3 linked regions of the Homo sapiens genome follow. The protein of the gene in region 3 interacts with the protein of the main gene of each other region in a pairwise test. Each region holds a gene or a part of one and is shown on either strand. Other genes may lie near its edges. The genes, in order: ZBED1, HMG20A and GPSM1.

Region 1 (2,674 bases), on a different chromosome or scaffold from region 3:
ACAGGAGCCACCGCCCCCGACCCTCTCTCACTTCTCAAATCTCTTTCCTTTTTCCACCTTCTAGGTGTCAAAGACAGTGGATGGTCTCTGAGGTTCAAAACCAAGCTGACCGGGTAAGTATTTACAGCAAAGCATCCAATGGGCTGCTGCGGGGATGACTTGTAAGACAACACGCTTCCTCGCTACAGGAAGCTGCTGTCCCTAATGCCAAAGAAACCGCCGCTGACGCCATCCCCCAAGGAGAACACCTGCTCCTGGTCCAGGCCCCACTCCCCCTCGTCCTGGTCCTCGGGTTCCGCCTCTGCCCCACTCCGGGCGTTCTCATACAGAAACACCTGCTCGTCCACGTGCGCGGGAGCCAGCCGGTTCCTCTTGGCGCTGACCACGTTGGCGGCGGATCCGAAGAGACGCTCAGGGGCGACGCGCGTGGCCGTCACGCACCAGTACTTCTGCAGCACCTTGGGCAGCAGGGGGAAGAGGGCCAGGCGGTCTGACCACCACTTGAGGGGGTCTTCGTTGAGGCCAAGCACCTTCTGGGACTTGAAGTTGCTCAGCTCCTCCACCACCTGGGCATGCCACTCTTCCTGGTCCTCCACGCCGCCTGTCTGGCAGAAGATCTCGGCCAGCATGTTGTTGATGACGCTGGCGGGCGGCGGCGTGGATGTCCGCATGAGCTTCTTGACGGGAGGCTCCTCGGGCACCGGGAAGATCTTGTCCTCAGCCGGCCGGTAGCCGCCGTCTTTGACCTTGTCCAGCAGGCCCTTGGCCTCTTCCACCACGCGATTCTCCACCTGCTGCCGCTCGAAGGCGGAGAGGAAGGGCAGCCTCTTGTAGCGGGGGTCCAGGAAGGTGGCCACGTTGAGAAACATGTCGATCTCGGGCGTCTCCTGGTAGGTCTTGGAAAGCTCCTTGGCGATGACCTCCTTGGCCATGCTGAGCTCCTTGGAGTCGGTCTCCTTGATGTTGAGCGTGGTGTTCAGGAGCATGTGCAGCAGCGGCTTCACCATGCTGATGGTGGGGTACCTGGAGGCCGACAGCATCTCGGCCACCTGCTTGAAGGGCTGCAGGAGCTCCACCAGCCCCTCGATGGTGGCCCACTCGCTGGCCTCCAGCATGAGGTGGTGGTTGTTGCTGTCCTCCACCAAGACCCCGGCGATGACGAACTGCTGCTCCTTGAGGCGCTGCAGCATGGCCAGCGTGCTCCCCCACCAGGAGACGCGGTTGCTCACCAGCATGCAGTGGGCCACGTTCTGCTGCTTCTGCTTCTCATAGAGCATGTACATGGCCACGGCAGACTGCTGGAAGTACTCCACCAGTTTGCGGCAGCGCGACAGCAGCGCCCCCAGCTTCGGGAGCTGGAAGGCCTGCTGGATGCCGGCATTGAAGGTGTGGCCCAGGCAGGGCATGTGCACTGCGACGTCCAGCAGGGAGCACGCCTTCACGATGTCCTTGCCATAGTTGGTGGTGGCCCCGAAGACCTTGGCGCTGATGCCCCACTCGATGAAGACCTCATAGAGCACTCGCGTGATGGTCTCCGCCGTGTTCTCTTCGGGCACCTCGAAGGTCTTCAGGCAGCGGGAGCCCATGGACAGGCAGTTGGGGGCGCCCAGGCCCAGGAAGTGGGCGGCCAGCGTGACGTAGGCGCGGTTCTGATTCTCACTCCTCCACATGTCGGTGGAGATGCCACACCAGGTGGCCTCGGCCAGCTCCTTCAGGATCACCTCCCGGACGGCCCCGTACTTCTCAGGGATGGCCTTGGTAGAGATGTACTTCCGGCTGGGCAGCTCATACCGGGGGTCGGCCGTCTTCAGCAGCACCTTGAAGGTGGGCTCGTCCACGATGGAGGCTGGGTACAGCCCCTCGCAGATGAGGCCCAGCACGGCGGCCGTCAGCTCCTGCTGCTTCTTGCTGTCGTAGCCGTGGCCGGCCTTGACGGCCAGCGCGTCCTGCCCGGGCTGCTGGGACGACTCGGGCTTCAGCTTGGAGAAGGCGGTGGCGAAGGCTTCACGCATCTGCTCCGTGTTGCTCTTGACGAACTCGCAGAATTCCTCGGGGTGGTTCTTCTCCAGGTGGTAGGACAGGTTGGAGGTGTTTCCGGAGTAGGCGATCTGGGCCATGCAGATGCGGCAGTAGATTTTCTTCCACTGCAGGATGCATCCCTCGGCGTTGGTGTCGAAGCCGAAATACTTCCACACCTTGCTCTTGGCGCGGGGGTGGGCCACCAGCTTCAGGTCTGTCTGGGAGCTCTCCAGGCTTTTATTCTCCATTGCTTCTCCACCGGAGCCTGCCTGCTGGACGGCTGCTCATGCGTGGGGACCTGCTGAGAAGGGCCAAGACAAACACAGCATGAGAAGGGACCCAGGCACGCACGGGAGCCCTGCCGGGGAGACAGACAGGGTGCCGGGGCAGCTCCGCTTTCAACCAAAGGGCACTGGGGCCGGACGGCTGGACCTTCCTTGCGGGTCACTTTTGCAGAGTGGAGGAGGGAACCTAGCGCAGGAATACGCTCTTTCTTCCACGTTAATCCGACTGCAGCGATGCCGCACGTGTCAACATACAGGTTTGCGAGTGAGCACGGCATTTTTGCAGGGCTGTACCTGACAAGTGCCTTTAGTTTTTTTTTTTTTTTTTTTTTGAGACAGAGTTTCGCTCTGTCACCCAGGCTGCAGTGCAA
Region 2 (3,653 bases), on a different chromosome or scaffold from region 3:
CATATCTAGAACTACCCATGCTTGTAGAACCATTAATCACACTCATAAGATTTTATCTTCAGAAAAAAAGTCAAATAAGGAAAATAGCTATAGTTTTATTTAATAGTGCCTGGCACATAAAAGGCACTCAAATATTTCTTCAAATGAATACCTTTATTTGTACTGACTTCTCCAAATCACTGCCCTTGGTTCCTTCTCATTAAGATTTATCTATTTTTATTACCTGAGGAGAGCTTTAGAATCAAATTCTAACATCTTTGTCTAGTCTCTATTCTCCCATCTTCCCCAGTAACTTTGTTTTGATTGCTACTAGACTCCTTACCTTAGAATACTCCCACTCTTTAAACTCAGCTGACCGTAACACAGAAACCAAAAAGACCATATACCACATCCTTGACCTAATCAAGAAGAAATCTGAAGCTTCCTTCAAGGTCATAAGATGTTTTTCTCCTTTGTTAATACCTCTGTAGTCTAAGTATTTACCAAAATCCCTGCTACATTAAGACAAAAACCCAGAAGCTATCCTCATATCCATCCTCACCTGATCCTTAACATACCTTTAGCCCTGTACCTAGCTGCTTATATTTCTCTCTAGGATCTGAGAAAGAATGATCATTTCCTTGCTTTCACACCTCTTGCTTCTTTCTTCTGGCTCCATTCAAAATTCTCTATTCTTCAAGTCTAAGTATCTCTCTCTTTTAGATATAATTCACATACCATAAAACTGACCCCTTTAGTGTATATTTCAGGATTTTTTTTGTACAGTTGACCCTTGAACAACATGGGTTGAACTGCATGAGTCTACTTATATGCTGATTTTCTTCTGCCTCCACCACTTGAGACAGTAAGACCAACCTTTCCTCTTCCTCCTTCTCAGCCTACTCAATGTGAAGATGACAAGGATGAATACCTTTATGATAATCCACTTCCACTTAACGAATAATAAATAGTAAACATATTTTTTCTTCCTTATCATTTTCTTAGTAACATTTTCTTTCTCTAGCTTATTGTAAGAATACAGTACATAGTACATGTAACATATAAAACATGTGTTAATCAACTATTTATGCTATTGGTAAGGCTTCCAGTCAGCAGTAAGCTATTTACGTAGTTAACTTTTTGGGGAGTCAGAAGTTATACATGGATTTTTGACAACACAGGGGTTAGCACCCCGAACCCCCTCATTGTTCAGGTGTCAACTGTATATTAGTATACAAGATATTTTAGTATATAAGGTTATGCAACCACCACCACTATCTAATTCTGGCACATTTTCATCACTTCCAAAGGAAACTCCATACTAGCAGTCACTCCCATTCCCATCCACTAATGTACTTTCTGTCTCTATTAGTTTTGCCTAATCTAGACATCTTAAATAAATGGAATCACATAATAGGTTGCCTTTTGTATGTGACTTCTTTCACTTTAATATTTTCAAGTTTTATCCATGTTACAGCAGGTATTGCTACTTTGTTTCTCTTTGTTGCTGAATAATATTCCATTGTATGGCTATATCGCATTTTGTTTAGTCATCCAATAATTAATGGACATTTGAGTTTGCCTTTTACAAATAAGGCTGCTACAAATATTTGTGTGCAAGTTTTTGTGTGAACATGTTTTAAGTTCTCTTGGATATATACCTAGGAGTGGAAATACAAGTTAAGTGTCCAAATATTTGATATAAAAATCTATTTGGTTTCTGAGTTCAGGTAGCAGAGGGTATCTCTCACAATGCAAACAATTCTATATTAAGCTCTCCATGCCATCCCTACTCAAACACCTACCATCTTCAAAGTCTGCAGATATTAGTAACAATTTACTTTTTTCCAATTAAATTGAGGAGCAGAGATCAGTTCTTACAGCTCCAGTTATATAGGAGGTGCTTAATATATGCTTATCTGACACCCTAAGAAGCTCCCAAATGAGAGAATGATGACTTACTATTCACTCTTTCATTTTATAGATATTTGAGTGTCTAATGTATGATAGCCATTGTGCTGATGCTGGGCATAATTGTGGACAAAAGTTATTGATCAGTTTTGTCATACTCCAAGAGCCAGCTCACGTCCACAAATATTTACTGAATACCTATGATGTGAATGGTCTTGTGCCAGGTATGACAGCACAGAGTGGAATAAGACCTAGTCTGCAGCCTTTTAGGGAAGGCATAAACTCTACCTACAACAACGCAATAAAAACAAACAAGAGGAGCACTGGACAGTAAGTGCTGTAAGAAAGGTATAATGCTCTGGAGAGTTAATGGACAGAACGTGTACAGTTTGGGAGAGTGTAGAAGAGGATGGATATCAGAAAATATTTCTTAAATGTGGTACTTGAGAAACGACCTCAAAGAAAGTGGCATTTTGATAGATGGGGATTCCTAGGAAAAAAGAGTGTTTCAGGCAGAAAATAGCATGAGCAAAAAAAAATATTAATGCTGGGTGCAGTACAGATTTTTTTCCCCCCAGAGGCGATCCCGTTTGGATGTGTAGATGAATAATGTGAGGTATGATCATAGTGTGAAAGGTCATTTTTGGTTTTCGTATTTAAATAAGTTTAGGAGAATGAGTTGAAAGTCTGCCTGTAACAATTCAAATTACCTTAGTGATTTGTGCCAAGATTAAGATTCCTTTTCTTGAAACTTTTCTATTTTGTATATCTTCTAATCATGGAAATTAGTGATTTCTCCTTCCCACAAGGAAAAAAAATTAAATCTTGACAACTGTGTGAGCATGCTGATAGGGGGACAAGGCTGAAGCTCAGTCAGTCTACCACTGCATCCCATACTGTGGGGAAAATGTAAAGCTTAAAACAGACATGTGGGCAAATCACAATAGCCAGAGTAGCAGAAGCAAGATTGGGGGTAAGATAATTGCATTAATGAAGCTTCTGGCACCAGGCATTGGACCAGGAGATTTACATACAACATTCTGATTCCACCAAACAACCCCATTTGGATTTAGGAAAACTGAGGCTTAGGGAGGTCAAATAAATTGCTCATGGTTACCAAGCTAGTAAGCTCAGCCAGTAAAATGCAGAGACCAGTGCTGAATTTGGGCCTATCTGATCCCATATTTTCCCCACTGTTCACTCTCATTTGTTTTCACAATACAAAAGAAGCTAGAATGGTAGGAAAATGATACATGTATCAATGAAAGGGACTGCATATTTAACACAGGGGCTTCTATGGTCTGGAGAAAAATTAGGCTGAAACATTCAAATCTGGGTTTAGAATGGCTTAGAGATTAAGACCAGGAGAGATCAAGTTTAGGGCTGCTTCTTTACCCAGTCTGAACAACGATCATAACATAGATCTTATTTAGGAATACCAAGGGAGCAAAATTCTAGTTTTAATTTGTAAATTAGAGAGTAAACTACAGTAGAATATGAATATTTGGCCGTATTTACTGTATTCAAAGTCCTGAGAACAGTGACTGGCATATAGTAGACACTCTAAACTTTTGCTTAAATAATGAAAAGTCACGTAAAGGGTATTCTCATTTGAATACCTGTGAAGGCTATGAAATAGAGACAGCAAAGCAGTAAGGTGAAAAACCATTCAGGTTCTTAAGATACTTTCTTTAATCCTCAACCCTACGGCAAAAACAACAACAAAAACAAACCACCACCAAAACGACAAACAAGGAAAGCAA
Region 3 (3,653 bases):
TTGCGGCTCACTTCTCTCTGACTTCCAGTCTTTGCTGGAGCATCATGATCAAAGCCCTAACTCCCCATGGGATGGTGTTAGGAGGTCCTGAGGTTTACATGAGGTCATGAGAATGGAGCCCCATAATGACAAGTGGCCTTAAGAGAAGCCACCAGTGTTCTCAAGCTCCCCCTTCTTCCTCGCTGTCTCTGCTAGGTGAGGACACAACAAGAAAGCGCCGTCTGCCAGCCCGGAAGAGGCTCTCGCCAGCACCCGAGCACACAGCACCCAAACCCTGGCCTTCTGGCCTCCAGAGCCGTGAGGAGTAAACGTCTGCTGTTGCTGCCCCGGCCTGCGGTGCTTTGTGAGGGCAGTCGGAATGGACCATGATGGTCATCTCCCAAAGGTGCTGCAGCCTGCTTCCCCTGTTCCTGTCCGCGCCTCCCCTGCTCCTGTCTGCGCCCCACCCCGCTTCTGTCCGCGCCCCCACCCCGCTCCTGTCCGCGCCTCCCCCCGCTCCTGTCCGCGCCTCCCCCCGATCCTGTCCGCACCTCCCCCGTTCCTGTCCGCACCTCCCTGTTGGGCTTTTCTTTCTCCCAAAGCTCATCCCATGTGGCTCACTCCTGGGCTCCCCGTTCCTCACCTATCAGCTGCTGGACGCGGCTCAGCGGTCTTGGTGCCAGTGAGGGCCCCAGCAGTGCCTGGCACACGGCAGGAGCCTGGTGACCAAGCAGCAGGCATTTACTGTGTATCTGCTGCGTGCGGGACCCTGTGTGCCATTTCCCACACACTGTCCCCTCTGGGCCCTCTTAGGCGCACGGACAGAGGGTGCATCCTCCATCCCGGCGGCTGCCCAAGGGCCACTGGGCTGCTGGAACAGGCGGATGGTGCTGCAGCCACACCTGCCTCGTCCACCCAGGGCCCGAACGCAACAGGCTTACGGGCCCTCAGGCTCGCTGGCCTCTCACCCCTGCCAAGCTCTGTTCCCAGCACTACTGATGGGCCCGTTCCCCAGATGGGGACACTGAGGCACAAGTGGGTCAAGTCACTTGATCAGCTGGCCAGGGCTGGAGCCCACAGCCTAAACTGCAGGGGAGGTTATGCCATGCACATCCCTGACCCCAAGGCCACTCGTTGGGACGTTCAGGGGACTTCTCCCAGGAAGGCTGGTGGCATGCTCCCCCAGTAACTCTTGTGTACCGTGCTCACAACGCCCTGAGCAGGGCCCAGACGGTGGAGGGCTGAGAAGTACGGTCAGCAGGGCCGAGGGCAGTCGCACATCCTGTGGGACAGGCAGGGCCATCGGGGACAGGCCAAGGGCAGGGGGCGGTCCTGCAGGGCTCAGGGCCGGCTCCCTCCTCCCAACATGCCAATCATGCTGCCCGCACCAAGAGTGGCAGCAGAGCCTCCGTCCTGCCTGGCACCCTTGCTGGGGTGGGGGGTGGGCAGCCCAGGAGCAAGTGTGGGAGGCCCGGGCCTGTGCCCTCTGGCCAGGGAGGTGGGGGCTGGTTGCTGTCAGGGTCTCATAGAGGCCACACACCCAGAGGAGCTGGACAAGGGCAGTGGCTGGCAGGGTGGTGACCCCCAGACACACTTCTGGGGCTTCTCTGCTGGCTGGGGAGGGGCCAGCAGAGGGCGGTGAGATTAATACGCTGACTGAGCCGCGCCAAGGCTCTTTGTCCTCCAGCCGCACGTAAGTCTCCTTGTGTTTATCAACGGGACACCAAACCCACCAGCCTCTGCCACGCCCACCGCCCCCATGGACCACGCCCACAACAGCAAGGCCACGCCCCACCGCGTCCCCGCCGGGCTGAAGCCCCACCTCCAGACGACTTCCTCCTCCCTGCCCACACCCCGCTGGGCAGCGCCCTCCTGTGCCCCCAGCCCTGGCGCCCCCTCCGCACGGCCAGGCTCTAGCGCGGCTCTGCACCCCCCTCCCCTCCCGCAGCTCGCAGATCCACCCCGCCCTCCGCACCTGCCGAATGGGGAGGCTGCGTGGGTCCTTCCGTGGCGCCCCCAACCCGCAACGCCGGGTCCAGACTCCCGGCCTCAAGGCCCTGTCCCTGCCAGGCTCAGCTGAGCCGGGGTCTCACCCAGGGCCGCCCAGGCTCTAGGTGTGCAGCCTGCCTCCCACAGCGGCAGCCGGGCGGCGGCCCCAGCCAGGCTGCCGGGCTGCCCTGGGCGGGGAGGAGGACCCTTCCCCAGCCCTGGGGGAGGAGGCGTCCGGCCGGCTGGAAGGGGTCCCGCACTCGGGGCGGCACAGAGGAGCCAGAGAGGGACAGAAGCTGCATTGTTCCAGCGTCCTCCCACTCCGGCCCCCCTTTTCCTTGGCTCCAAGAAAGAAAACGTCGGGAGGACCCAGAGCCGCAGCCTCCGCGGAGCCTTTCCAGAGCTGCTCCCAGCCCTGCTGCCAGTTGCTGCTGGGGTCCCAGATGGTGGCAGTGCCGAGCCAGGGACACAGGAGGGTACTAGGGGTGCCGCAGGAGCTCTCGGCAGAGCTCCCCACCCTTAGGAAACCCCGGCCATGGGTAGAAATAGGCCTGGACATCCTGGGGGGCACATTCCAGCCCATCCCCTACCCACCCACTGCCATCGGTCACAGCACCTTGTCCCACGGACTCGCTGAGGGCCCCAGAGCCTCTGCTCCTTCCTCTGTCTTCAGCCTCTGCGGTGGCTGACATGCACCCCCAATTTCCCAGGAGAGGTCATCGTCAGAAACCCATGAGCACTGTGGCACAAAAACCCAGGGGATGGCTGGGCACGGTGGCTCACGCCTATAATCCCAGCACTTCTGGAAGCCGAGATGGGAGGATCGCTTGAGGCTGGGAGTTTGACACTGGCCTGGGCAACATAGTGAGGCCCTATCTCTATAAAAACATTTAATTATTAAAAATAAGATAAGAAAAAGAAACTCCGGCAGCCCAGCACCACATCCAAGCCTGGTGTTCCCAGCCTGGTCCTTAGCAGGCCTGGGGGGCACCAGGTACGTTCTGGGAGGCAGGCATCCCTTCTCGGGGGCTGGCAAACTCAAGACCTTTGGGAGTGGGGGACACATGGGTGGGGCAGCTGCTCCCCCCAAGCCTGCCCCTCACCCACCTGCCAGCCACCTCAGGAAGTCGGCCCAACCTGGCACCACCCCCCTGGCACCTATTAGTCTTTTCGCTTTGCAGGGGACGTTCTGTCCTGTGTCTGCAGCACTGCTGACCGGCATGGGACGACCAGCGGTCCATGAATGAGGTCACCACGGTGGCCTCGCATGGCCTTGGGCCTTGCCTGATTACTGCCCCAGGCACATAGGGCTCCCACAGCCCAGCCCAGCCCAGCCCAGCCCAGCCCTCTGGCTGATGCCCTCTCGCCTCCCAGCAGCCCTCTCCTACTTGGGTCTGAGGACAGAAGCCCTCCCTGCACCGAGGGCTCCAGGGGGAGGTGGGGGTGGAGGCCCTGGAGCAGCCAGTGGGGCAACAGGCGACCACCTCCTGTCCTTCATCCAGCAGCCCTGCAGCGCCACTCAGGATGCGGGTGGGAAGGGCTCAGGGTGAACCTCAGGCCTGTGCTGTCCCTGAGGCCAAGAAGAACTGGCTTGTAGGCGCCATTTTCTGGCGGCTGCCACCTCCGCCATGCTGGCCTGGCCTCGATCCCACCCCTCCGCAGCTCCTGATGCGGTCCGTGCCTGT

What was found.
Region 1: the proteins of GPSM1 (region 3) and ZBED1 interact in a two-hybrid assay, tested with the Homo sapiens proteins (one large-scale study listed by BioGRID and IntAct).
Region 2: the proteins of GPSM1 (region 3) and HMG20A interact in binary tests that used the Homo sapiens proteins (3 or more experiments, as listed by UniProt).

What each region holds. Positions count from the first base shown.
Region 1 is NC_000023.11:2,488,453-2,491,126, forward strand, and holds part of ZBED1 (E3 SUMO-protein ligase ZBED1), read right to left. Parts: intron 2,321-2,674; 5' UTR 2,268-2,320; coding exon 183-2,267; 3' UTR 1-182.
Region 2 is NC_000015.10:77,423,769-77,427,421, reverse strand, and holds part of HMG20A (high mobility group protein 20A), read right to left. Parts: intron 1-3,653. UniProt on the Homo sapiens protein: Plays a role in neuronal differentiation as chromatin-associated protein. Acts as inhibitor of HMG20B. Overcomes the repressive effects of the neuronal silencer REST and induces the activation of neuronal-specific genes.
Region 3 is NC_000009.12:136,341,029-136,344,681, reverse strand, and holds part of GPSM1 (G-protein-signaling modulator 1), read right to left. Parts: coding exon of another isoform or gene 3,522-3,653; exon of another isoform or gene 2,844-3,521; intron 1-2,843. UniProt on the Homo sapiens protein: Guanine nucleotide dissociation inhibitor (GDI) which functions as a receptor-independent activator of heterotrimeric G-protein signaling.